2 separate regions of the Homo sapiens genome follow, and region 2 is linked to region 1. The links come from fine-mapping of genetic effects on gene expression. A gene starts in region 1. The other region holds a variant in brackets. All regions are shown on one strand. Distances are between the middles of the regions. Region 1 holds the start of RHBDL1 (rhomboid like 1). Region 2 holds the start of PRR35 (proline rich 35).

What was found. PIP is the estimated chance that this variant, and not a neighbour inherited with it, causes the effect.
Region 2: its variant is fine-mapped to the expression of RHBDL1 in subcutaneous fat (GTEx, PIP 0.94).

Annotation. Positions count from the first base shown.
Region 1 is chr16:671,731-680,276 of GRCh38, reverse strand. It overlaps RHBDL1 (rhomboid like 1), which reads right to left and starts at 4,606. Exons shown (of 8, transcript NM_001278720.2): 1 at 4,448-4,606; 2 at 3,780-3,941; 3 at 3,381-3,605; 4 at 3,158-3,306; 5 at 2,889-3,001; 6 at 2,718-2,818; 7 at 2,578-2,638; 8 at 2,009-2,496. The coding sequence starts at 4,486. The coding sequence ends at 2,225. RHOT2 (ras homolog family member T2) reads right to left here. Exons shown (of 19, transcript NM_138769.3): 12 at 8,496-8,546; 13 at 8,275-8,417; 14 at 8,096-8,193; 15 at 7,893-8,023; 16 at 7,711-7,788; 17 at 7,452-7,574; 18 at 7,147-7,349; 19 at 6,106-6,797. The coding sequence ends at 6,671. It also overlaps the pseudogene STUB1-DT. RefSeq lists silencers at 279-388, 4,532-4,581 and an enhancer at 4,780-5,314.
Region 2 is chr16:554,510-567,639 of GRCh38, reverse strand. PRR35 (proline rich 35) reads right to left here and starts at 7,246. Exons shown (of 3, transcript NM_145270.3): 1 at 6,979-7,246; 2 at 3,264-4,384; 3 at 2,111-2,966. The coding sequence starts at 4,345. The coding sequence ends at 2,333. NHLRC4 (NHL repeat containing 4) reads right to left here and starts at 635. Exons shown (of 2, transcript NM_001301159.2): 1 at 565-635; 2 at 1-169. It overlaps CAPN15 (calpain 15), which reads right to left. Exons shown (of 14, transcript NM_005632.3): 14 at 13,004-13,130. RefSeq lists enhancers at 311-360, 309-1,204, 2,100-2,996, 6,030-6,575, 6,576-7,122. The variant T/C (reference allele first, on the strand shown) is at 4,472.

The DNA of each region.
Region 1 (8,546 bases):
AGTTCCCTGTCCCCGCGCTCTTAAGGGTGGGCGTTCGCGTAGGCCCTGGCCTGCCCTGCTGAGGTCTCTTCGGAACCCGCCTCGGCGGCGGCCGCCACACACATTCGACTTTCCCAGTGAGATGCCTCACTTGCTTCGCTGAGGGCGCGCTCCCGCAACAGCCTGTCCCGACCACCTGGGGTTCCGCCCCTGTCCCAACGCGCAGAGACCCCTCCCCCGGCAGCCGGCCCCATCCAGAGGCCCCGCCCCCAGCAGCCGGCCCCATCCGCAGAGGCCCCGCCCCCAGCAGCCGCCCAATCCAGAGGCCCCGCCCCCAGCCGCCGGCCCCATCAGCAGAGGCCCCGCCCCCAGCCCCATCCGCAGAGGCCCCGCCCCCAGCAACCGCCCAATCCAGAGGCCCCGCCCCCAGCACCCGGCCCCATCAGCAGAGGCCCCGCCCCCAGCCGCCGCCTCCCGCCCCTGCGCGTGAACGTAGCGGCTTCCCACGCGCTGTGGGGTGTGAGGACCCCAGTCGCTGGGCTGCCATTCTGGAGCGCCACGAGAGGTGCTACGGGCGAGCGCGAGCCCCCGAGGGCGGCTGGAAGCCCCGGACTGTTGGTAGAGTGGAAGGGGATAGAGATCGGTGGGGCGAGCGTCCTCCGTGGCCAGTCCTCCCCTCACCGCCCTTCCTCAGGTATCGGGAAGAGTTGCCAGCGGCCATCAGGGGCAGAGCAGAGAAGCATGTGACAGGGAGCTGGAGCGGCTGCTGGCCTGGCAGCTTGACTGTGAAGGGCGGCCCGCCCCGAGGGCAGGGCCTCCGTAGCGCGGGTCTTCATTGGGGCGTGGCATCGGCGGGGCGGGTGTCTCCAGTGGGGGCGGGGCCTCCCTGGTGGGTCCAGCACCCCAGGCACCCTGACCTGGCCTCCCACAGAGGGGCGCTTCCGGCCACGTCTGCAGCAGCTGGTGGCCACCAATCCCCCTGAGCTGGTTGTGCACTGTTCGACCGCCACCTTCTGCCTCCTGCCAGATGTGGGGGCTGCAGTCACCGAGCTGTGTGCCCTCTGCGGTGTGGGCCCACCACAGCCTCGGGTGAGTTGGGTGGGCACGACTTGGGTACATAGGCGTTCTTGTCTGTGAAGCGGGCAGTCTGGGCCCTTGCGTGTCGCTAGGAGCAGGAACCATAGGGCCCTGGGCTGCTGGGAGCAGGGTCTCCCAGAGCTTGTCCTGATGGGGTGTGTCTGGCTGCTTCTCCTCGCTGTTCACAGCAGTCCTGGCAGCTGGAGCTCCAGAGATGGAGGCCTTCATGTCAGATGAGGCGGTGGCCACAGTGCCCGGCTGGCCGGCCCCACAGTACACCCTCAGGTACTACCTGCTGTACCTGGGCCAGGTTCAAGAGCGGGCCACAGCTCTGAGCCAAGGGGAATGAACTGTGTGTGGGCAGGTTGGGGTGGCCCGTGCCCCTGGGCCTGAGTCCGTGTGCCCCTCCCTAGCCAGTGCCTCAGGACAGTGGACTCCCTACCTAGTGGAGACAGCACTGTGGACCTGGGCTGTGGGGCAGAGGCTGTGCCCAGACCTGCTGCCCAACCTTGGCCCCAGCCTGGCCACCCACGAGGATGCTAGGCCAGCCAAGAAGCATGGAACCCAGGCCGAGTAAACTTGGCCATGGCCCAGGCCTGCTCACCTGCCACAGAACCTCAGGCCTCCGGGTCTCACTGGACGGCAGGGAGGCTGAAGAGGAGGCTGGCCACTACGGGAGCTCAATAAACACTTCCCAAACTCACGCCTGATCACACACCCGGCCTGACCACACACCTGGCCTGACCACACGCCCGGCCCCCAGCCATCCCGCGTGCCCCCAGCTCCCACAGACACAGCACCTGTGGCCCAGGAACAACTCCCACGCCTGACCCCAGGTGCAGAGATGCACAAGGAGGGAAGTCCAGGCCCCCGTGGTGGGGAGGGCCGTCGCGGTCTGTGCAGCAGGTGTGGGGGCCCTGACGAGTCTCCAGAGCCCGGGACAGCCCCCTGGTGCTGTGTAAAATATTTATTAATTATCCAAAAAGGCTCAGACCGCAAGTCCTGGGAGTGGGGGGTGGGTGGCTGGGACAGGGCCTCCTTTGAGGCCACCCACACCCAAGGGGCACAGCAGCCCTGAGACGTCCGTTCACAAAGGGCAGACGTGAAGGCCCCTGGTGGGCGGCCACCACATGCCCGAGCCCTGGCCTGTGCAGCCTCAGGTAGCCGGTCAGGGCGGTGGGGGGATGTGGGCGCCCAGCAGGTCGTAGGCGAAGACGTTCCAGAAGACGGCGAAGAGCAGGAAGGTGCCGTAGGCCAGCAGCACCACCCACCAGCCGCACTGGTCCCGCAGGCGCTCCTCGTAGCTCCGCAGGATGGTCAGGCCCATGCTCACCCCCACCACCGCGCCTGCCAGGTGCGCCATGAAGCTGGGCTGTGGGCCCGAGGCGGGCAGCGGCGGGGAGAAGCGCAGCCACACGGCCCGGCCCACCTCGGAGCTCACTGCAGAGGGACGCGGCAGGTGGGAGGTGCCCTGGCTGCAGGCTGAGAGGCCCCCCGGCCCTCCCCCCGGCCCCTACTCACTGCACACCAAGGCCAGCACCATCCTCAGCAACTTGTAGGGACATCTCATCCCAGCCCAGTTCTATGGGTGTGTGCAGACGAGAAGTGGTGAGGCTCACCTGGGGCCCCTCCCCACGCCCCCCACCGGGCAGGCCCGTTACCATGACAACGTTGGCCAGGTGTGCCGAGCACAGGGCGTAGACCCCGCCGGAGCCTCCCACCACCGGGGCCCGCATGTCGGTGATGGAGACGGTTAGGGAGCCTGTGTGAGCAAGCGGCGGGTGAGGGTGCAGCCGGCCAGGGCAGGGGGCGGGGGTGCGCGCCTGCCTCACCTGCCAGCACGCCTGCCAGGTAGAGCAGGCTGATGCGGAGCAGGCCGTGCACCATCTCCAGGGGCACCCCGATCATCAGCTGCAGGAGGGCGTTGAACCCCAGCTGCTCCAGCCTGGCCACAGGGAAGCAAACGGGTACGAAGGGTGGGGTCAGCCATCCGGCCCCACCCCCAGCCGTCACCTCAAGTTGCCGCACCTGCCTTGCGGCTAAGCCTTTCTGATGTAATGGCAGGTTGGGGCGGGGCTCACCGGGCAGCAGTGCTACTCACCCAACGTGCATGAACATGTAGGTGAGGAAGCGCCAGGCGCGGGCACGGTGCCCGGGGTGGTACACAAGGGGGCTCTTCATGTACTCGGGGTGGTAGGTCTGCAGCACCCACTTGTTGAGGCGGGCCCCGTAACACAGGAACACGATGATCTGGGGACACGAGTGTTAGGCTGGTCATGGCCAGGAGCGCGGGAGGCTCCCGGGGCAGCGGCCGGGGGGCCCACCTGGGCAAGAGTGACCGAGGCCATGAACACGGGGGGTGGGCAGCTGCGGTGACGGTAGAAGTACCAGCGGCGGTCCACCTCACAAGGCAGGATCTCGTAGGCCACGTAACGCACAAACCGCTTGTAGACACCTAGGCCTGGCTCATCCAGCGGCCCGTCCCGGGGCAGTGCCCGCTGTCCGTTAGCAATGGCCCGCTTGAAACTGCTGGAGCGCTTGCTGCTGATCTGGGGGCAGGGGCCTGAGTGTGGGCCACGGACCTCCCCATGGCACCCCTGCCTGTGAGGCTCACCCAGCTCCCCGCATCCACAAGCCCCCCACCCACCGCCGTGAGGAGCTGCCTGCCCGCCTCCTCTGGCCAGGACACCGTGCCCCTGCCGCCTGCCCACCGTGGCACTGACCAGGTCCACCAGCTCCTGGTAGCAGACCTGGCCCTGCTCGTTGCTCTGAGCCAGGGCCACCAGCATGTCCAGCTTGGCCGGGTCCAGGGGCAGCTCATGGCTGTGCACCAGGCCAGTGAAGGTGTCCGCACCGATGAAGCCTGTGTTCTCGGGGTCCAGCTGCTGCAGTGAGGAGCCGCCAGCCAAGGCCTGAGTGCGGGCCCGACCCCTGGACCAAAGGGCTGGGCCAGGCTGGCTGGGAGCATCAGGCTCAGGCTCCCAGCACTTTTGGGACAGGGGCCCCGTGCCTGTCTGTTCCCTGGGACCCTGCTTGATCCCAGGAGCTGGCAGGGCACTGGTGCCTGGGTCCCAGTCCTCCAGCTCCTCAGTTGTTCCCCCGTCTTCCACCCTACCCATCCTGGAAAGCGAGGGCCAAGGTCCAAGACCAGCCAGCTGCCCGCCCTCCCTCCCTCCCTCCCTCCCTCCCCCCGACTCTCCCTTCTCCAGCCAGGAGCTCTGGTCCAGTCAGTCCTCTCCTGGGGTCCCAGACACACGGACCAAGGTCGTGGAGGGATGAGGTAGGTACCGAGCGGGGCTTTCGGGGAGCTCGGTCCCGCACAAGCTCAGCTCAGCGGCAGGAGGGCCGCATTGGGGGCGGTGCCAGCTCCCCAGACCACCCCCCGACGCACCTGCTCCTGGATGAGCTGCAGCAGCGAGCTCCTGTCCATAGAGCCTGGCCGGGGGCCGGGGTCCGGGGTCGGCGGCCGCGGCCGGGAGGGGCTGCTCTGCGGACGACTCCGCTCCGCCCCAGCCGGCCCGCTCCGCCCGCTCCGCTCGGCGCCGCGCTTGGGCCGCGTCACCGAGTCGCCCGCCTGCCCGCCCCTGCCGCACACGCCGCCACGCGCGGCCAAGACACGCGCGCACCCTGCACGCGGACGCACACCCCGGACAGGAACCGCCTCCAGCTAGCACCGCGTCTCAGCGCCGGCCCCCACCCCCGCTCTGGCGCAGCTCCAGCACACTGGACTACCTCCACGGCAGCCGCTGGTAAATGGAGTCACGGGGATGGGGGGCACCTAAAACCCCCCATGCAAGACCGTTCGCCCTCTCACAGCCTTCCCGGGCTCAGGCCTGTGAGGATGCCACCTCTTCCAGGAAGCCTTCCCTGACCACTGCTTGCTCCCCCTCCAGGCTGACCCAGTACTCCCTGCGGTTCATGTTGCCACCGGCTGGAGCTCCCTGCTTGCAGCAGACACACCCCCTCCCCCCGCAACCCCCCACCGAGCGCAGCAGCAAGGAAGTCCCTCGTCCCGCATGGCCACTACAGCCGCCTCTTAGGAGGAGGAAGACGCTGCTGCAGCCGCCTTGGCTCTGACGACCAAGCCCAGCCCACTCGTCCACACCCTGGGCTGGAGGCCCCTGACCACTCTTGCAACTCCATGCAGGACAGCAAAACCTCCCGCCCTAAGGCGGCGCCAGGGCTGGGCACAAGGGGCATTCCAACACAGAGCAGAACCCCCAGGGGGCAGGGCTGCAGTTGGGATGAGGGGACCTGCTCCTGGGAAGGCGGGCCAACCCCTCCACAATGGAGGTGACAGATAAGACACGTGTGACTATGGCAGCCCCTGCAAGGGCCACTCAGAGGGCTTCTCCTAGGGTTGCAGTAGTCCCAGAAGACAGGCCGTGGGGGTACAGCGGGCTCAAATACCATCAGTCGGGAGGGACCTCAGGGGCCAATGCCACAAGCTCCAAGGCAGGGCCCGTGTGGGCCAGGACTTGGGAAGGGGCCCCACCTGCCACTCCCTAAAGGCAGACATGGGAGGGGGGGGACCAGGCCTTCTGATACTTGTCCGGGTGACCTTGGGAAGGCCACGCCCTGGGTCCCGAGAAGCAGGCATCTGGGCTCAACTCCCAGCCCGTCCCTCCCTCTGGCCCATCCTGCTTCCCTCAGGTCAGGGCCCCAGGGTCACCCCGTTCTGTGGCAGGCAGTGACCACATCTGGTCACACAAGCCCAGGTTCTCGGCGCAGCTCAGCCAGGCTGGCAGGACGCTCTGGGGAGTGAGTGGGCAGTGCCAGGGCACACTGGACCCTGAGAAGGGGTCAGTCACCGGGGAAACATCTCAGGCACCGGCGCCCCCCAGTCCATGCCGGGCGCGCACCGTCCTCCCGCAGTGGGCTCCCACTCCCAGACCGCAGGACCTCCAAGGACACTGGGCTCCCAGGCCACAGCAGCCCAGAGTGGACCTTCCAGAGGCCATATGCACACGCCTGAGACCTCAGAACAGTGACCCAGGAATGAAAGGAGGGGTGGCGTTTCCAGCCCACATAAAGACAAACAACACATTCTAGGTTGAATCAAAGCAAGTTGTCTTCAGAGACTGGGATCCGAGATAGAAAACACACAGTGAAGTTTAATCAGGAACCCAACCTCCGGTCCTCTGCTACAACCACGGAAACGGCTCCAAACTTGAGGGGGGACCCCCCAACGCCTGCTTTTGGCCCAAAGCTCTGCCTTCCAGCCCTCCTCATACCCACTGGCCACCTAGGACCAGGAAAGGGGGGTAGAGCCCTGAGAATTCTGGGTCTGGGGTCACCAGCTCCCACACCTGTGCTCCCCGGCCCCACACACATGATGCCCAGGGGTGGGCAATCCCTGACAGCGGTGGCCGGCACTTGGGAGCTCCTGCTCAGCCACCTGCCACGGCCCACCCTGGGGGTCCGGCAGGAGCCAGGGCAGTGCATGGCAGCATAAGGCCCCGCTGCAGATCGACTGCCTTCAGAAACAAAAAGTCCCGGCGCAAAGGCGTTCCCGGAGTGGCAGCCTGGCCTGCACCCCAGCTGTGCTGCCCCTGCAGAGCCCCAGCAGCGAGGCACACCCAGGTCAGGGGAGGGGGCTTGGGTACCAGGGGCCTCACTGGCTCTTCACCAGGACCCTGTAGAGTGAGAAGCTGAGGACTGCGGCCACGGCGGCCCCGACAACCCCCAGCAGCCCCCGGAGCCAGAAGGAAGAGGGATGCAGCTCTGCGTGGACCAAATGTCTGCAAGAGAGAAGAATCATCTGCAGATACCTCAGGCACATGCCCCCAGCTTGCTGCTGGGCACCCTCCCATGTCCTGGACTCACAGGGCCCCACAGGCGGGGATCCCAGACCAGAGGCACAGCCGGTGGAGGCCAGGCCCTGGAGGGACATGCCTGGGCACTGCCTCCCTCTGCCACACAAAGCTCCACCCCGCCACTCTGGCCCCAGTTCCAGGCCTGACGCCACTGCTGCCCACTGCTCGGATGACAGACACTGCTAGTCCCCAGTTCCAGGCCTGACACCACCGCTGCCCACTGCTCGGATGACAGACACTGCTAGTCCCCAGGGCTGCGCTACTGGGTACCCACGGGAAGGCGGCCATGGTGGCGAGCTGGGTGAAGATGGTGGTGCTGGGCTCGGCTGGGCCAGCACAGGAGAACGGCACGGGAGCGGGTAGCCGGTGCTTGCGGCAAAACTCGGCCGGTGATGGGCCAGACACCGCGACACCTTCGGGCAGGTCGGCCTTGGAGGAGACAAAGAGGCAGGGGGTCTGCCCGTCCATGTAATGGTGCTGTGGGCAGAGAGTGGTATGAGGTACAGTCCTGGGGTGGCCGAGGCACAGCTGGAGGGACAGACCCTGCCCCATGGCCACGTGGCCCCTGCAGGGCCCCACCTTGTAGACGCTGGCACAATGTGCAAAGGACTTTGGGTCACTGCCATCAAACATCAAGCAGGCAACGTCACAGGTGGCGTCCAGCGATGTGGCCAGCAGACCATCTGTGCCCACCTCACAGAGCTGGGACAGACAGCGGCCTTAGGAAGGGTCCCTGGGGCTCGGTCCCCCTAGGGCCATGCTGGGCCAGATCTGCCAGGCAGGCCTGGGTGTCCCCGGGTCCACCCTCGGGCACAGGCCGCGCCGCCCCAGCACTCACGATCAAGTACTTCTCCTGTCCATTGACCTGCACCGTGTCGATGGCGTAGCCGGGAGGCTGCTCCCTCGTGTCCTGGTGCTGAGGGAGGTGAAGTCCTGACACTCGCTGGCTGCAGTGCCCCCCAGATTGCCCTGCCCTGCCCCTGGAGCCCCTGGGGTGGTGGGGGAGTCTAGGGTGCTTACCCCCAGGCCGCGGCCGAGAAAGGCCTGCAGGAAGGCAGACTTGCCCACTCCACGGGCCCCTACCACCTTGCACAGGAGGACGCTCCGCTGCGTCTGTCCCTTCTCCTGGTCCAGCCTCTTCTCACGAGTGACTGTGAGGATAGACACGGGTTAGGGCAGCTGCCAGGATACTGGGCCCAGGCCCAGGGAGGGTGGGTGCCTACCTGTGATGGCATGGGCCTGGTCCTGCTCACAGAGGGTGGGGTAGCCCAGGTAGCCTAGGTGTCCAAGGCAGCTCCGGACGTCCAGGTAGGTCACCAGGCTGGGGGTGGGCGGGAGGCAGGCACAGTGTTATGGTGGGGAGGGTGGTGCGGCAGGCGGGCATGGTGTGGGCCGCACTTACGTCCACTGGCAGAGGTATCCGTGCAGGGGCAACCGGCCGGCCTCTGTGCGGACTGTGCGTGGGAGCTCGGGGCCCCAGGGCGCTGCTGGGAACACACTGAAAAGGCTTTGCAGCTCCACGGGCGAGAGGGCGCCGTCGCGGTCCTGCAGAAGGAGGGATGTGGTGATGTGTGTGCCGGGGAGGGGGCGGGGGCAGGGGCAGGGGACTCGCCATGCTCTCACCTGGTCGTGCTTCTCAAACACTCTCTGCACAAACTGGTAGCCAAGGTGGTT
Region 2 (13,130 bases), 110 kb after region 1:
CCGGATCCACCCAAGCAGCCGGAGCTGCCGGGAGCCCGTGGAGTCTCCAGGTGGGTCCAGTGTGAGGTGCAGACACCTGGAGGCCAGAGTCCAGTCAGTCCGAATCACCGTCTCAGCTTCTCTGCAGCTGGGTCACGCTTGGGGCTGCAAGAGAGAGAATAAGGCCCCACTGTGTGTGGGAATGGCAAAGTCACTCCTCCAGTTTCTTCCTATGAGGCCGGGTCCTCCTGGTCCTGAGGGTCTACCTGGCCACCAAGCCCAGCGGCCACCCTAGTGTCTAGGTGCCTGGGACTTGAGTCTGGGAGACACATGACCCGTGGAGCTCGCTGTGGGTTTTCCCCTGAGCCCCAGATGAGCTCATGGGCCTCAGACAGATAAGCAACATTTCTCAAATCCATCTGCCTGTGGAACCCCTTTCTACGGCGGGGGGGCGGTCACCCACACACAGCCCTTCTACCCGAGCCCCTAGGTCAGGGAGACTTCTGACCCCTTAGGGGCGAGGCAGCCTATTCCGAGGGCCTCCACCTGCCCCACCGAGAGAGGCCGGGGGGAGGGGTCTCTTACCTGGGCCCTGTCTCGCTGGGCCCTGCTTCGGGGCTGGGTGGCTGCAGCCTCTGTTGTTGGAAACTAGAACTGGAGGAAGTGGGAGGAGCCACTGGCAGGGACGCAGCTGGGCCGGGTGGAGGAGGGAGAGTGCAGTCTCCGGCCTTGGCCCCTGAAGCTTCTATGAAAGAAAAACCAGGTCCCCTGAGGACTCCCCATGCTGTGGTGTTCCTGCCTCCGCGCCTTGTTGCAGGCTGCGCCCTCTGCCCGGACACTATTCCCACGTCCCCTACACGGCCAGATGCCATGCAGCCCACCCCCCTCCAGGGGTCCCCCATGGTCCCCCCACAACCAGCAAGTTCATTACTCCAAGTGGCAAGGCAGCCCCAGGCTGCCACCCCCAAGCAGGGTCCTTGGGTCTGGACCACAGGCGGGTGACCTGCTGGCTGAGGCACCCTCCATGAGGCCTGTCCTGCTCCCCACGGGTGACAGCGAAGGAGGTCGTGTCTCCACACCTGGGAGACGGGTGCTGTTGCCCCCAGCAAGGCCATGCTCACCTGTCTGCTCAGTGGGGGTGAGAAACTGAGGTGCAGTGGACATATGGGGTGCAGTGGACATATGGGGGGCGGGGGCTGAGGACAGGGAGTCTCCCTCAGACTCGGGACTTGGGAACAGTTCCTGGCTGCCCAGAGCCCCCTGCAGCCCCTCCAGGAAGCCTCTGGGTAGAGGGGCCCGGCTGGGACCTGTCCCCACAGCACTCCGCGCCTGGCCAGGCAGCACCCCAGCTCTAGCTGCCCCGAGGCAGGGTCGGGGCTGATGCTATCTCCCTGGTAGTTAATGGGGCCGCTGCCAGCCTGCTTGGACTGGCCCCAGCCCGGCTGGACGCAGGCAGGAACTGCTTCTCCTCCTGGGGGGGCGATGTGGGCTCCAGAGCCCATTCCAGGGTGGGCGTGGAGGGTGTGGCCAGCTCTCCCAGGAGAGAAGTGATTTGCTGTGGGGGTCCCGGGTGCCCCTCCCTGTCTGCCCATCCCCTGCCCGTGGGAGGGCCAAGCCAGGCCCTGCTGGGAGGGAGGCAGTGAGCTGTGAAGGCTGATACCTATCACGGCTGCAGGGGCTGGCAGGGGCCAGCAGAGCCCACGCTGGGTGAGCAGCCTCCAGCCACAGAGCCCCGGGGCCACCGTTTAACCGCAGGAGAGCTGATATGAGCGCGGCCTTGCTGGATTCAGAGGCTAGAGGATGTTCAGGGGTCCGTGCCCACCCCCGACACACCAAGACACAGGCCGAGCAGCCCAGTCCACACGCCTCTCCACCCCCGACACACCAAGACACAGGCCGAGCAGCCCAGTCCACACGGCTCTCCTGGCTCAGCTCCCGTCGCCGATGTCCCGCCCCACCCCCAGACCCCAGCCCCGCGGGGAGGGCCCAGCCCACAGGAGAGGGCCGAGTCTGAAGACAGAGGCCCAGCAGGACTGCTGCCCACCCAGGCCTCCCAGGCCAGGACACTTCCTTAGGGGGGTGTCCAGGTGGCTACACTAGGGCCCCAAAGGAAGGAGGCACAGACGGCGTGTGTGAACAGTTTCTGTTTTAATGTCCACAATTGTGATCAATAAATAACTGTGACCTCCAGTGTCCCTGTGTGGCCCCAGGGACAAGCGTTGGCCACGGCCCGTGGGGGTCTATCCACATGCATGCGGAGGCGGGGCAGGTCCCAGGCAGGTGAGGGGCAGGGGCTGCAGGAGAGGGGCCGGCATGCTGCAGGCAGAGACAGTCAGACCTCAGGCGCTGCAGGTCAGACCTCGGCGCCCTGGGGGCTCTGCAGGCCACAGACAGCCTCAGGGGTCTGGGAACTCCTCGTCGCAACACAGGTGCCCCAGCCACTGCCAGGAATGACAGGGTCATCTGGGGCTGCGAGGGGGAGCCCTGGGGGTGGGACGCTGGAGTCGGCCTCACACTTGGTGGTGTGGCCAGAGAAGGGTTGGGGCGCTGCAGGGCCCAGCATGCCGGGTGGCTCGGGGGTGCCCCCGGTCAACACGGGACCCAGCTCGGGCCGCCCCCACGCCTCTCCAAGAGCCTGGGGCCCCTTGGCGGGCGCACGTTTCACAGAGAGGTCGAGGGGTGCGTCTGGCGGCCTCACGGCCTGCTCCAGCGCCTGGTGAATGGTGAGCAGCTCCAGGCGGATCTTGCCCAGCTGCTCCCGCAGGGGTCTCGGGGCCAGGCCCCCCGCGGGCCCCAACTGTCCCAGGCGCTGCTCCACCCTGGCGTAGTCACCGAGGGCTCGGGTCAGGTCCTCGCCCACATGCTCCGGGCTTCCTGGCACTGGGCCCCGTGGCTGCAGGGGGAGGGGGCCCTCAGGGCCGGGGGTCTCAGGGCCGCCTGGATCCCCGTCCTCAGGCCACAGCATCACAGAGGAGCCGGTGGGCAGGCTGTGGGGTGGAAGCTGGTCAGGAGGCCGCACTGCCCCCACAGCGCCCCCGGCCCCTGCCCCTCTCCCCTCACGGCCTCTGCCCTGTGGCCCCAGCCTAGAGCCTAGGCTCTCCTGGAGACCCCGAGGACCCCCGCGCTGGCTCTCGGGTCTCAGTTCCCCTCTGTGGCCTGGAGCCCACTTTCCCAGCGACTGAGCTCAGGACGGACCCCAGCCGCCATGCCCAGCCGCCCAACCGCCATGCCCAGCCGCCCAGCCCCTCCGTCCACCCCAGGAACCGGGAGCCCAAGACGCCCACCTGCTCCGGGAACAGAACCTTGTCAGGCTGGGGGATGCCTTCGGAAGCTCCAGCCTGCTTCCCAGGGACAGCCTCCTCCTGGGGTCACTCTGGGCTGCCCGCTCCAGCTCCCCCTCCTGCCCTGGGTCCCTGGGGGTGACTCGGGGCCAGGGCCCCAGCCCTGGAACTGGCACCTTCAGCAGGCCAGGAGCCGGAGTCCCAGAGGGGCTCCTGGGGGAGACAGGGGCCTTGGCAAGGGCAGCTTTGCCTGCTGGCAGCCCCAGAGTGTGCTCCAGAAGCAGCGGGTAGTACAGGCGGGGGGCCGGGGTGGGGCGCTGAGGGGGCTGCACGGCTGGGAAGGCCGTGGCCGGGGGCAGCAGGGGGCTGGCCGAGGCCAGGAAGGGCACATGGGCTGCAGCGGCCAGTGAGGGCCCCAAGTAGGAGAAGAGGCCGGGGCTGAGCGGGTAGTTGACGCCCAGCAGAGACAGGTGGAGGCTGTGGGCCTCAGGGAACTCCCCTGGGGCAGGCGGGGGATAGCAGGGGACGCTGCCCTCAGGGCCTGCTGAGGCCATGTCCCCCGCACCCACGCCCCTTGGGTCCCCTCCCATCCCCGGCTTCCACGACTCAGGCAGGAGCCCACTGGGGCCGGGACCCTTCCGGGTGGCCCTAGCCACAGGGGGTGGTGGCCCTGGGGACCCCTTGGCCCTGGACTTGGGGCCTCCGCCACAGTGCAGGGAGTGGATGTCGGCGACCACGAGGTCAGGCGCGGGGGCAGCACCTGTGGGCCGTGCTCCCTGGGGTTGCCTGCCGGGGTCGGACTCCCCAGGGCGGTCTGGGGTGGGTGCGTGGGGCCTAGGCGTGGTGGAGCCACGGCGGCACGCCCAGTCTGGGGAGTCTAGCAGCAGGGACAGGGAGTCCTTGCAGAGGCTGTACTTCATGTGGTTGTAGAGGTGTGACTTCTCCAGGCAGGTGAAGGGGCACTGGAAGCATTTGTAGTTGTAGGGTTTGCCCCAGGGCCGCGGGATGTAGTGTGGCTTCTTGGGCTTCCGAGACCGCGCCCTCGCCCCTGTGCCCACGCGGCATGAGCCCGCCTCCCGCGACATGGCAGCCTGCTATGAGGCAGGGCCGGGCACCATGGCCACCTGTAGATGGGGCCACAGTCAGTGCCAAGCCTGCCTCTGACTAACTCCCCACTCCTCTCCATCCATGGCTCCCCAGGCTCCAGGGAC[T/C]GGAGCCTGGGTGCTCCCCCCACCCCGCCGCCTCTGCCCTGCAACGTGCCCCCCGAGCCCCATCCTTCGGCTCCTCCCCACGTGCACTTCCAGGGTGGCAGCAAAGTCCAGGGCACCAAAAAAAAAAAAAAAAGTCCAGGACAGCGAGCTGCATCTGACGCCGATCAGCAGCACGTCATTTCTGAGTGTTAAGTGTAGCCTAGGCAATATTGGAAAGGCACACTAGAAAGGTGTTCATTGTTTATCGGAAATTCGATTTTAACTAGGCGTCCTTTATTTTATCGGTTGACCCTACACACATCCCCACCCCTGAGGCCAGGCCGACTTGCTGGCCAATTTCTAGGATAGTTCAGCCCACACCCATCTCCCCACAGCATGTGAGTGGCTAAAAGAATCAGCGTGACCAGAGCTCACTTCGGGTGGACGTCAGCCTCCTGGTCTCATTCCCTCCAGCAACCCTGGCCCCTGCCAATCTGCCTGTTCAAAGCCTAGGAAAAGGCACTGAGATGAGACACCAACGGAAGGGTCTGTGTGGGATGATGCTGCGTGTGTGTGTGTGTGCCTGTGTGTGTCTGTGTGTGTGCATGTGTGCGTGTGCATGCACGTGTGTGTGCGTGCATGTGCGTGTGTGTGCACACGTGTGTGCGCCTGTGTGTGCATGTGCCTCTGTGCATGCTTGTGTTCATGTGCACGTGTGTGCATTGTGTGTGCATGTGTGCATGCATGCATGTGTGAGTGCGTGTGTATGCGTGTGTGTCTAAAGGCGGCACAGAGCCTGCTCTAGCAGGGCGTCAGGTGGGCACTGGGGGTCTCTTAGGGGGTCAGTCTCATGTGGGGCCAGGCCAGGCTGTGGGGAGTGGACGTCCCAGCATGGCCCCACGGCTCAGCCACCTGCTCAGCCCAGCTCCATCTGGGTGGCTTCGGGCAGGTCAGCGGCCGAGCCTGCAGCGGCCACACTCAGCCAAGACCCGCTCCTCCCCACGCCCCACACGGCGCTGGTATGCGCGCCACACTCCATCTGGGCCGCCACCTGGGCTGTCCACCGCCCCAGCACGCGCCTGTGTGGGGTGCACAGCACGCCTGCGCACACGGGCTTTGGGTGTGTGTACACAGCCCACAGGCTCACACAGAGCCCTCACCCAGTGCCCGGAGAAGCCACCTCTGTGCCACCTAAGCTCAGAACGGAGTCTGCCACCAAGTGCGGGGCCCTGGCTGCACACACCTCACACTCCATCACGGTGAACACGGCTGCTTGTCCGTGATAACACACTCACCACCCATCCAGGTGTGGGGGGGCTTTCCAAACCACTCCAACACGGCACTCACATGCTCACACAGGCCCTACACACCGACTCCCCAGGACACACGCAGACCTGGCTGGGGGTCGCACCCGTGGTCATGCATGGCCAGTGGGTTGAGCAGGGTAGGGCTGGGGCACTGCTGTCTGCTGCCCCCAAAACACTGTGTTGGTGCCGTTGGGGGGACGACCAACAGGGCTGGAGAAGTCCACTCGTCCAAAGGCTTGGGGCCCTGCAGGGCAGTCACGGGCTGCAGGGGCAGGCAGAGGCTGACCAGCTGGTCTGTGGCTGAGACAGGGTGGCGGTCGGGAGGCAGGGGCTGGGCCAGGAGAGGTCCTGGGGCTCCCCGAGGGGCTGCAGACCCGGCCTGGACTGGGTGGTGGGTGCAGAGGCGGCCCCTTCTCCCTGCCCGCCGCCCCCCCCACCCATGTGGATGACAAATGGGTGTGGGCGCTCCGGCGACAGAGGCGGCTGTGCCGGGCCATCGATCACCCAGCCCTGGGAGCCACACAGCTGTGCCAGCCGATGCCACAACCCATCCCGCCTCCCAGCAGGGACCGGGGGCTCCCGGGTCAGGGGCTTGTCCAAGGGGCTGTCTCAGCAGCTGCTGACCCCTTGGGGACCCGGAGGATAGCTGGCACCCACCTGGTGTGTGTACACAGAGCAAAAGACACCCCTGGACAGCAGCCACACGCACACACAAACGCATACGCACTCACACGCGCGTCCCAGCCGGACCCGGCAATCGCTCCCGGGGCAGCCAGCAGCCCTGTGCCAGGCCCCGACACCCGGCCCCACTCACCTGTCCCTGTTTGGGGGAGAGCTGGGGGAGAACCGGTGGCACGGGGGGCACAGGCACCCCCACAGGGCAGGAGGGGGCACCCAGCAGCCGGGGACCCTGATCGGCCACCCGCAGATCCTGCTGCCCCCCCCCCCGGGAACGCAGGGCGCCCCACACAGGCGGGTGCGGCGAGCGCGAGGTCAGGCGTCTGCCCCAGACCCCAGACCCGGCCCCTGCCCTCCCCGCCTGGCCCCTGAGGGCGGCCCTCCCTCCCCCCGCGCTGCTCCTGGACTTCGAGAAGAGGGTGGGGGGGACCCGGCCGCCCCCCGCGCCCCCCACACGCCTGGCCACCCGCTGCCCCCGCGCCCCGCGTCCAGCCGGCCCCGCGACGCCCAACTGGCCGCCCCCGCGGCTCCCGCCGCTCCTACCTGCGCCCGGCCGGGAGCGGAGCCGCCAAGTCTGCGAGGCCGCGTGTAGGGCGCAAACTTCCCGCCCCTCCCCGCCCCGCGCCGGCCGCGACTCGGACCCCGCGGACGCGCTGGGGCTCTGGGGGTGGGATGCGGCTCCCGTGGGGGAAACTGAGGCCCGGCGCCGGGAGCCGGACCTCCCGGGTCCGCGGTCCCTCGAGCGGCAGCGACTCCCGCAGCCTCCGCCGCCGCCCGCGTCCCCCCGACGCCGCTCGCACCTCCCGAAGTTGGCGGCAGAGGCGGGCGCGCGTGCGCCTGGGCTCCGGGCTCCGGGGGGCGCTGCGACCTCCGACCGCGCTCGCGGCGGGAGGGAAGGAGCAGCCCCCGGCCCGAACCCCGCGCCCCCGCCGCCCGCGCGCCCCCCGCCGCCCCCTGGCGCGCACTCACCGGCCTCGTGCGCCGGGACCGGCTCAGCTCTCGGGGCGCGCGGTGGAGCGGCCGGGAACCCGGGAGGCAGCGGACGGAGAGCGGACTGCGGCGCAGGTGTGCGGCCGAGTCAGGGGCGCCCGGCGCCTCCCGCCCCCGTTGCCCGCAGGCTGCCGCGGGGGTGCACAGAGGCCGCCAGGTCTCCCGGGTCCCCGCCGCGGCGTGATGGGTGTCAGCGGCGCGGGGCGCGGGAGAGGGGCCGTCAGCGCTTATCCATCAGGGCTCTGGCCCCTGACAGCCGCCGGCCCACCCGAGCCAGGGCCCCTGGGGGCTGTCCTGGGGGACAGGGGTGCCGCGGACTGAGCCAGCGGAGCCGGGCTCCCTTCCTTGCCCTCCCTGGGCGAGCCCTGCCCTCCGTTCTCTTTTCCTCTAAACCGGAGGCTGCCCGGACCGGCCCCTCGCACCCCGCCCTGCCGGCTGACCGCCTCCACCTGGGGCTGGTCTCCAGCACCCTCCCCCTTCCTGGATGCGGACCCCTCCAGCCCTCACTCCCGGCTCCTGTGGGAGGTGCCTCAGCGCTGCCCCACGAGGCCACGCACTTCCCTGCTGTTTGAAAGACCCCCTCCCCACGGGAGTCCCCTCCTGAGAGGACCTGGGGCGGTGGAGGAGAGAAGCAGGGCCAGGGCTGCTCCCAGCCCCACCTCCCGGGCTGCACCAAGTTCCAAGCAGCTCCCTGAGCTGCCAGAACGTAAAGGCCTGGAGCCCCACTGCTCAGCTGGGGCCTAGGGGAGGTTCGCCTGACCGGCCTGCTCCCTCCCGGACACAGGCATGGCTGGGGCAGAGCCCCTGACTTCGCTCAGGGGAGACGTCCTAAACCCGACACTTGCGGTAGGCGGGCGTCTCGGGGTCTCCAGCCAGAGGGGAGTGTGCTACTCCCTGCTGACTCTGAAACAGCACAGGGAGCCCGGCCCACATAGCTCCCCAGGACCTGGGGCTCTCTGCAGGCTCAGCCGCAGGCTCCCGGGCTGTCCCCAGCTCAGGTCGGGGTCAGGGGTGCCTTGGGGAAGAAGGGAGGACCCCACGGGGCTTCTGGGTGTCACCCCTCGAATGGGGCAGAGAAGAGAGCTCAGCAGCATCTCCGTGGCCCCGGTCCGGCTGCTGGCAGAGCCCCCTGGTAGAGCACACCCAGGGTCCATGAGGAACAGCCCCTGGTTCTGGGGTGGGCGTGGGGCTCTGTCTCCCTCCTGCCTCCATGCCACCTTCCCTGACACAGCCGCACACGCCCGTCTGAGGGAAGTCCCTGGGGCGGGGCAGGGGACTGGGAGGGGTGCTGTGGATGGCAGAGCATGCCAGCCTTCTCTCTGCCCACCTGGCCTGGCCCAGCTGACCAGCTGACCGTGCAGGCAGCTCCGGGCCGGGAGACAGCTTGGGCTGCCGTCACGCCAGCAGCCCCGTGGAGAGCGGGGGCCAGGAGGCCGGCTGCTTCTGTACATAGACTCTACTCTGGACGTGTTCAGCTGAGCACTGCCCCGGGAGACTAGGGTCCAAGGTCACCCTGACACCAGTAGTCCCTCAGTGGCCAGCCCGAGACTGACCCCTTTGAAGGTCTGGAAGAGGCCACAGCTGACAGCACAGGAGACCAACTGGCTGGAGGCTCTGGCCATTGTCCAGGGGAGGAAAGTAGGGAGCAGGGAGGCCTGGTCTTGGAGCACCTAGATGTCAGCATACAGGAAATAAAGCCCAGTGAAGCTCAGGGGACCAAGGAGCCCCAGAGGGGGAACAAGGCCGTGTCTAGCGCTGAGCAGGCTGAAGGAGCACCTCCACCCCTCACCACCGATGGGCCTTTGCAGAAGTTTGCATGAGAAGAGAAGAGGGGCAGCCTCGAGAGGGGCCCCGGGGCACAACTTGGACGTGTTTCTGGCCTCCCGGAAGGACTCTGGCAGGGAGGATGAGGGGGCCCTGCACCTGCTGGTGGGGGTCCTGAGATTCAGCCGTGCACGAGGTGGGGGGTGAGGAGCATGTGAGGCCAGTACACTGGGTGCCCAGATGACTGTTCCCATCACAAACAGCCAGGCGAGGCCGGGATATCAGTGCCAGCACCCCGCAACCACAGGGCCCCCTGGGCACGTCAGCTTCCTCACTGTGGCCATGACCCACCTGCTTGGTCCCAGCTCTTGCACACTGGGCTGACTTTGGGTTTGGAGAGGTGGCTTCTGCTTCCTGAGGCAGTGACTGGGACTCTGTTTTGGCACCTGTGCCCCCACCCCCCCAACTTTCTGGCCCATGGCCCCCATCTGCAGAATGGGCAGTGGGGTGCTCAGTGTCCGGGCACTTCTGCTCTGGTCCTAGTGGGTGCCCTGATGTCTCCTTAGCCAGTCCCAGTGCAGGGTGGGATGGGGACCCCATGGCCCCTCCTTCTGCCTCCAGCCAGAAGCTCATTTTTGGCCATTAACCTCTTCTGCCCGGTCTGCCCACGGCTGCCCGCCTGTCACCTCCATTAACAATGGGACTCTGTGCCGGGGGCTCACGGGCAGGACGGAGAGCTGGGCTCAGAGAAGGCAGCGGAGGCAGCGCTCGGCATGGCCAGTGCCCGGGGGCAGGCCTGTCTCATCCCCTCAGTGTCGACACACAGCCAGTGTCAGGACAGGTGCAGGGGCCGGGGTGCCTGCACCCACACAGTGAGGGCAGTGTCAGGGCTGCAGCCAGGCTGGAGGCCCCACGCAGGTCCTGAGACCGGGGCAATCTATCCAGCGGCAGCAGGTTGGAGCCCCCACGTGGGGTCAGTACCTTGCAAGGTGTCCGGACACAGCTGATGTCTGTCCTTTCAATAACGGACCCCAGGGCCTGTGGCCACCCTGAGCACTTCAAGAACCCCAGGTCTACAGAGCATAGGCCTCCTGGGGGCTTCCTCCTTGCTGCCCACTTGAGGATCCCTGGTTGAGAGGGGCAGCCCAGCCTTGGCGGAAGGGGTCATGGATACACGTGAGGGCCCTCGGCACCAGCCTGAGGCTGCTGGCCTTGATGGGCGGGTACACAGTGGGGGTGCCAGGGGAGAACGGAGGGGGCTGGGCAACCGAGTGGGCCAGAGCGCCCAGGACAACGGCCCAAGGGTGTGGGGGGCACACGAAGAGCCTGCGGAGCTCTGGGGTCCCTGGGTCCATCCACCTGAGGGAACGGGGGCCCTGTTAGGAGGCGCCTGAATGGGGGCTCCAGGAGTCTTCCGGCTCGAGCACTACCAGGGATAGTCCTCCCCAGCAGCCCTGACCATCCCAGAGTCCACACCAGAGAGTCCCCTCCCCACCCGCCTCCCGGCTCTGGAAGACCCCAGCTGGGCCCTTCCCCATGCACTACACTCTCATAGACGTGCCGGGTCACTGGCCACCCTGGGCCGGGTGCGGGGCTGACCCTCTGTGTGTCCTGAGCCTCTGGGACGGAGGAGGGTACAGGACGCTCCTTGGAGGGCTGAGCTGCTGTGGTGGGAGTGAGCCCCGTCCCAGGAGGCTGGGATGTAGACTGACAGAGGGGGCAGCCAGCCAGGCGGGTGGGACGGGAGGCTGAGGCTGCTCGAGCCCCCACCGGCTCCCGAGCCTGGCACTGGCCAGCAGCGCCCGGGGCCGACAGCAGCCATATGTTGGGAAGAGGAGCTGTGTGTGTCTCTCTGCGGCCCCCGGGGCTGGCCTTCCTGGGCCTGTCACAGATGATTTTCCCCGCCTGAGTGGCAGGCGGGCTGGCGGGCGGGGTGGCGGGGCCTCCAACTGGCAGGTGGGGTGGTGGGGCCCCATGTCCAGCCCCCCCATAGCCCTCAGCACCAGGGCTGGCCACTGTTGGGGTAGATCCGGGTCCTGGGCCTTGGCCTCCCACCCCCCAAAACCTCACTGAGCACCCCCGGCCTGCCATGGCCACCCCTGCCCAGGTCTAGGTCGGGGTCCTAGAGGAGCCCTGGCCGGCCAGTGGGGAGCGGGCACTCCTGCCAGGACATGGGCAGGCAGCCAGGGGTCCACACTGGGCAGCAGTGCGCCCCGGGCAGGCGGGAGAGGGCCTGGAGCCGCGGCCCAGTCAGCCTGGAGCCCAGAGCTGTGGAAGGAGGCGAGGAGGCCACGGCTAATTTGTACACTAAATGCTTCTGACAGCGATGCCTCATAAGTGAGAACTTGCCACTGCCCACCCCGGGAAGGCTGTGGCCAGCAGCGCCAACAAGAGGGGCCAGGAGAGGGCACCGTGGGGGCACAGGGCTGGGACAGACCAGATACACCAGAGAGATGGTGCTGTTGGTGGGGGTGAGACCCAGGAGGAGATGCGGGGGAGGGGAGAGGCCTGCACAGAGAAGGGAGGGGAGGGCTGGGCGGGGGCCGGGCAGTGACAGTGGGAAGGAGTCAGCCCCGACAGCTGCCACCAAGGTCTGCCCCGCGCCAGGGCTGTGTGTCCTGCCCAGCCAATCCTCCCTGCTGCCTGCAGGACGCTCGCATCTTTTCCCCTTACCTGCTGCCAGCCGCCTCCTCCAGGCCTCCGCAGCAGCCCCTCACGTGGCCCCGGCCCAACACCTGGCAGGGTCTGTGCTGTGGGACCCTGAGTCCTCTGCAGACGCCCCCCCTTTCCCTCATCACCTCCCTGTGGGAGCTGCTCCCGGGGGCTTTCAAGTGGAGAGGAGGCTGCTGGCTGGGCTAGTGGGGACTCTGGGCAGCTGAGGGGGTGGGCACGGACCCCTTGCCTGCTGTGCGGGACTCCTGCAAGAAGGAGGGTCCTTCTTGTGGGCCTCTGTCCTGGGCCACCCCAGGACTGGGGTGGCAGAAGCCAGAGAGGTGGGTGGTGGTGGGGGTGGGGCCAGGGACAGAGGAGCAGGGTCTCGGGAGGAACGGGGGTCCCAGATACCCCAGGACTAGACAGAGCCAGCTCTGTGCCAAACAGGAGCGGGCACGAGCCCGGCCCCCACCCACAGGAGGAGTGTGACGTGGCGCAGTCGCGGAGCAGCAGGGCCGGCGTCCGCGGGCACCGAGGTGAGATGTGTTCTGGCAGCTCCCCGCCGCCCGAGGCCCGCCCGGAGCGAACACTGCTGGTGGCTTTAATTGCTTTCACATTCGATACGCTGCCCGTGACAGCCTCTTACCCCGCGCCGGCCGCACCCCAGCCCCCAACTCCGTCCAGGGAGACAGCAGAGCCTCCGAGCGGGCGCTTTGCTCAGCAGCACCCGTGTGGGGGCAGAGGCCACCCTGGGACGAGGCTGGGAGGGGACAGGAAACTTTTCTCCCCACGCGCCCCCTCACTCCATCTGCTCCTGCCGGGTGACTGATGGGTTCAGACAGAGCCCCCCGTGCGGATGCCTCGCTGGAAGAAGCTGCATGCGCTGCTGTCCCGTCTGCCCAGTCCTTCCCGGCCCTGGGGCTGCGGCCGCAGGGTCTGACCCCTGCCCCCGCCCAGTCACTCCGTCCTTCCTGGCTGCGTCCATTTGGCAGGGCCGGCTGCCCCTTACAAGCTTGTGAGTCACCCCACCACGGCCATCTCCAGGGGCCCCCACCCGTCCGCCTGCCCGGGATGCCTGGGCAGGGCCTACCCCTCAGACCTGCAACCTCCCCGCCCTTCCACAGGGCCCTGCGCGGGGCAACAGCAGGAGGAGGAGGCGTGATTACAAAACAAAACGCTTTTATTTGGTCCATTGGAGCCTGAGTCGGAAGCCACTGTGGAGAATCCTATGGTAAAGGAACGGGACTGACAATTGATAAAATAGTCTCTGTGTCACAAGAGCTGGCCGT